2 separate regions of the Homo sapiens genome follow, and region 1 is linked to region 2. The links come from fine-mapping of genetic effects on gene expression. Tissue or cell type: whole blood. Region 2 holds a variant in brackets; the other region holds the start of a gene. All regions are shown on one strand. Distances are from middle to middle.

Region 1 (2,704 bases), 63 kb after region 2:
TCCTTTATTCAGATACTCGGGGCGGCAAAGATTGTTGGAAAAACAACTGCATCGAAAGCACCTTAGCAGCCACATATGATTTGACTTAAGCAAAAATAACATTTCCTGGGGTCCCGTATGCCCTGGTAAGCCCAGGTGTCCGGAATGCCACCTGCCCCGACTGCCCTCGGGTGGCTACAGGCGCGGGGGAAGGCGCAGGGCCAGGGGCGCTGAGGGTGAAACGGTCCCGGCGTCCGGGCGGCGGCGGTGGCCGCCTGCGGCAGCTCAGCTGAAACGCAGCGGAAACTGCAGCCAGTCACGGGGCTGCGGGAGGCAAGGCAGGAAGGTGGCGCTGCCGCCGAGCGCCTGGAGCCCGAGCGCTCATCATGGCGGCAAGGGCAATGGCCGCCACGGGGAGCGAGCACGCCCCTCCGCGCGCACACGCCGCCGCGCCGGGCCTCCGGGGCCCGTCACCGGCGCCGCTGCCGCCGCCGCCCGCTCTCCCACCCCCCCTCACGGGCTGTAGCGGAATTTTCTCTCCAGACACCGCCTCCAAGATGGCGGCTCCCCCTCCCGGCAACCCCCTCTATCGTCCCCTGCAGCAGGCGCCGAGCCGCCGCCATCTTGTCCCCCGTCCCTCCCCCCCCCTCACCGATATTTACATAGCGAAAATCGGCCCGGCCGGCCTGCGGCCTTCACCTCACGCCTGCAGCCTTCGCCTCCTCGCCAGGCCTCACCCCGGCGCGGTGCCCCAGGTCGGCCGCGGAGCCGACCCGGGGCCCCTCGACCGCCTCCGGCACAACCGGGCGACCCTCCCCCAACCCCCGCCCGCTTACGGAGCGCGCCTCCGCCGCCGCTCGGGGCAGCCGGGCTCCTCCCCGGGCCTAACTGCGGCCTCCTCGGGGCCTGCTCGGCGCCGCGCGCCACGCCGCCCGGCCTAGCGCGGGAGGGCGCCTTGCGGGCCGCCGACCAGGCCGAGACCAGGCCGCTGTGCGCGCACTAGGCCCCGCGGCCGCGGCGGCACCCGGGACTCACCGGACGGACGTGCGGGCGGCCGGCGACGGTGGCGGGTGCTGCAGGCCGGCCTTTCTCTGGAGCACTGGGCCGGGCTCCGGCTGGTGGGGCGGGCGGAGGGAGGGAGGAGGGGCCGAGCTCGGAGCTGACAAAAAGCGGCCCAGCTCCCCGGCACGGGCCCGCCGTCAGCACGTCACGTCACCGCCCGGGAGAGAGACCCAGGAAAATGCGGAAGGGTAGACAGGCCCCCTCCTCCGCCCGGTGGGTCCTCCTGGCACCCCGTGTCGGCGCCGCTCCCGCCCCGCGACCGGGGAGCCCAGTGGCCTCGCTGCGGCGGGGTCTCCGGCGGCCGGAGTCTCCGTGACAGCGCCCCCCTTCTTTCCACCTCCTCCGCGCTCCCGCCCGCCGCCGCCACACACGCGCCGCTGCCGCCGCCGCCTCGGCCGTAAAGCCCGCGCGGGGCCGCGGTCGGCCGACCCCGCGGAGAGGCAGGCGGCCCGGCCGCCCCCCACCATGTCCCGTGGGCCGCGGCCGCCCCCCGGGGGCCTCCCTGGAGACCTACCGCCTCTCGCGCCGGTCCTGGCCGAGGCTCCAGCTCGAGTTGTTTGCAGGCCCTCAGACCCCCGCCCGCAGTAAATGTGTTTTCTTCATCCCCGTGGCTGGGGAGGAAGATAAATTTAGCAACCCCCGCCGTCCCCTGCCTTCGCTTAAAAAAAAAAAATCTTTGAAATAAAATGAAAACGGGCTTGCCAGTCTAAATGGGTGTGCGGGAAGGGGGGTGGAGTGGGGGGAGAAGGGTTATCCCTAGAGCACCTACCAGGCCGTCTACTTTTTAAAAATAAGCAGTCAGAGCCAAACTGATTTTATTAGTTTGTACGGGGGAGGGAGATGAGCAAAGTTGCATTTTGAAACGTTTCGCACGTTGCAAAGAACAGGAATTTTCTGTGTATTTTCCTATGTACCCGTGTTTCAGAGCTTGGGAGCCTGTGAAATGTAAGACTGGTGTCATCGTTTCATAAATCATGAATTTTCCACATTCCTTAATAGAGAGGAGCCCAATTGGGTATGGATTTTTTTTTTTTTAAACACACTGCTTAAACAAGCCTTTTGAAGTTTCAAAAGACTTGGGAGAGAAGGGGAAAATGATTAAACAGCACTTACCAACTTCAAAAATGTGTATTTCGCACTTTACTTAGTTTAAATGTTTATGCTATCTTTCCATGCTGAACTTGGAACCCAAACTCTGTTTTAAAGTTACTAGGGAAAAGTTAAATAGTGGAGTCTTTACATTAATCTGGAATCTGGCATGCTATCCTTTAACACAGCACTAAATGTTAAAGGCATTTTTAAACAATAAGAAACACAAAAATTATAAAGCAAATAGTATACTGGTGTGAAATCTCTTTAAATACAGAGGCCACGTATTTTAGTTGCCTGACATAACTCTTTAAAACTCCCAGAATGCAATTTGTCCCTTCCCTCAGACATCTCTCAATCACAAATGCTTTCAAAAAGGAAAAACAAAAGTAGAGTAAGAAGAAATCTCTGAGCATGCACTGGATGATAATTTTCCTCTCGGGGCTTTAGTCTGAATTTTTCCAAGCGATTAAATTTCCTTTCAAAAATAGTAACAGCATGTATTCATTGTTTATAAAAATTACATCAGGCTGTGATAGACTTTCACAGAAAGACATTTCACAGAAAGGTAAAT
Region 2 (2,617 bases):
CCCTTAAATACCTTTTAAAGGTTTTAATGTTGTGCTTTAAAAAGAACTGTGTATGATTCCGGAGTATGTAAGAGAAATATAAAATGTGTGAAGTGTTGTGTTCTTTATCTTTCAGTTTATTTAAAAAAATATAGTTAAATGACCCAATCATTTATATTTTCTGTATTAATTTTATAGGATTTAAAATTAATACATTTCCACTTTCATTTAAGTGTTTTTACATTATTTCTGGGAAAATAAAAATTAAGGGAGATTTTAAAGGTTCTCACAAAAAAACAGACAGAGCTTTCAAGAATCGCAGGGCAATGAATCACGGATCACAAAATTGTAAGTTAGTTTAAAAAAAAAAAAAAAAAAAAAACACATTATGGGGGCCAAGAAGGTACAGGAATTTCCTATAAGATAGGCTAGGAAAACCCATGCCTTGACTTTGACTGGCATTTGGGCTGGAGTTCACACCTGCCTAAAGCACTTGGTTTAAAACTAGACTAAATCAGTCTAGCACTTCAGAGGTTTGCCAAACACCAAATATTTTGATTTCTAACCCTAAAAATATAACTCTTGAATACAAACATCAATGGCAAAGAGAAAGATGAAAGGTAAAAACCTAAGCACACAGGGGATGGAGCACCATAATGAGGTGACAAGGCAGCTATCGGGTGGGAAGACAATTTCTAAATCTCCTACAATGTGCTAGATGCATACGGACCAATAGCCAACTGAAGGGACCCCAAAAACTGTTTTCTGTTCTCCCAGATTCGTCTTAACATAACCAAGTTCTAATTAACCGAGTTTGTTTTATGAATGTATGACACTGATTCAGACCTATGTGGTGTCTGGGCACGGTGGCTCACGCCTGTAAACCCAGCACTATGGAAGGCCGAGGCAGGTGGATCACGAGGTCAGGGTTCAAGACCAGCCTGGCCAAGATGGTGAAACCCCATCTCTATTAAAAATACAAAAAATTAGCCGGGCGTGGTGGTGGGCGCCTGTAATCCCAGCTACTCGAGAGGCTGAGGCAGATAATTGCTTGAACCCAGGAAGCAGAGGTTGCAGTGAGCTGCAGAGGTTGCAGTGATCACACCACTGCAGTCCAGCCTGGGCAACAGAGCAAGACTCCGTCTTAAGAAAAAAAAACAACAAAAA[A/C]AAACAAACAAACAAAAAACCTGTGGAAGACTTAGTGATGTTCCAAATAAGGCCTCAGACTTTCCTTATCCACTTAAAACACATCTTTACCTTTTAATCAAAGCCAACTTGAGTGTTAAGTTTTTAAAGTTTGCTAACTGTAACTGAGAAATAACAGATCAGCCTGAACTTGCCGAGTGTGAAGTCATAATTAGCACCCGTTCTCTGGTCCACAGAGCCATCACTTCTTTTCCATCCCCCTCACTAGGTAAGACAGAGTTCCCTCTCAGGCTTCTCAAAGAGAACTGTGGGAGTCATGTCTGGATACTCATTTGCTTTTCAGAAAAACATAAAGACATGGAGGTGAAATTGTATGAAAACATTCTACCTAGAAACATCTTAACCTCTATGTTTCAATTACCAAAGATATTTAAAAGAAAATATCTTTACTCTTTAAAAATACTAGTGTCCTTATTTTCCTTCTAATTCTTCACCTGAGTAGTCTCTCTGAAGAGCATGACTTACAAAATGCTCTCTCATGCATCCCTGGATCTTTCATGTTATTGTAAATTTAATACTTTTCATTATAGATTTTAAACAACTACTACTTGGGGTTGTGTGTATAAATATGTAAAATAAGCAATACACACAGGTACATGATATATATGTGTATATATATAATTCAGGGTACATTTACATACATAAAGTTGCAAAAGATCCTATAAGCCATGAGTTACCTCTAGGAGATTCCAAAATGCAGTCCTCAGTAAGTGTCATTTGTAGCACACAACCATTCCAAGATGAAGCCGCACAGACAGAATAATCAAAATACAACATGAGCAAGCACAGTTTTTCAATAAGGTTTTCTAAAAGTTTGCTACGCTGACAAAAGATGTAAATAATCCAAAGAAAGCCAAAAGAAGTATATTTGAAAAGTAAACACGAACCCAGCCACTGCTCTTTACTCAGCAAAGCCAGGGACGCAACAGCTCAAATGGAAACTTTCACTGTCAAGTGGTCTGAAAATATTAAGCAAGACAAGTAAATGACTTCCATGTTATGATAATTAGACCTGACTGTAAAATCTCCCATTTATATTAGTAGATGTCTCTGACAATTTTATTGTGAGAAATGTATGGGGAAAAAAATGAGTCAACATGAATACTTTCAGAGTTACCAATATAAAGTTACCTTAAGTTAATGGTCTTAGAAGAGTACCATCAAGGTAAGCAAGGTAAATATTTAAATAAATATAAAATTCTAAGATATAAAACTTCGGTATAGAATCAGGGATTACTTTATTAAAAGTAACTAGCATGTTGCCAGTTTTCCCTATTTATTAAACAAACTGAATAGAATTCAGAACACACTACTGAGCAAAATGTATATTTAAAAAAAAGTCAACTAGAAGTAATAATTCTATTTGTACACAGCATAAATCAATATACAGTATTGTATGTGAATGAGACTGATTGGCTTTAAAATGAATTTT

Evidence for each region. PIP is the estimated chance that this variant, and not a neighbour inherited with it, causes the effect.
Region 1: ZFX starts here. The variant in region 2 is fine-mapped to the expression of ZFX in whole blood (TOPMed, PIP above 0.99). The same link has a PIP of 0.9 or more in T cells, blood mononuclear cells, lung, monocytes and nasal epithelium.

What each region holds. Positions count from the first base shown.
Region 1 is chrX:24,148,105-24,150,808 of GRCh38, reverse strand. ZFX (zinc finger protein X-linked) reads right to left here and starts at 1,080. Exons shown (of 10, transcript NM_003410.4): 1 at 1,015-1,080. ZFX-AS1 (ZFX antisense RNA 1) reads left to right here and starts at 1,155. Exons shown (of 3, transcript NR_046657.1): 1 at 1,155-1,254; 2 at 1,967-2,056. RefSeq lists silencers at 74-583, 634-683, 704-1,113, 1,174-1,533 and enhancers at 624-1,437, 1,644-1,743.
Region 2 is chrX:24,211,422-24,214,038 of GRCh38, reverse strand. It overlaps ZFX (zinc finger protein X-linked), which reads right to left. Exons shown (of 10, transcript NM_003410.4): 10 at 1-2,617. Among named protein-coding and RNA genes, the nearest start is that of ZFX, 63 kb to the right of the region's middle. The variant A/C (reference allele first, on the strand shown) is at 1,147.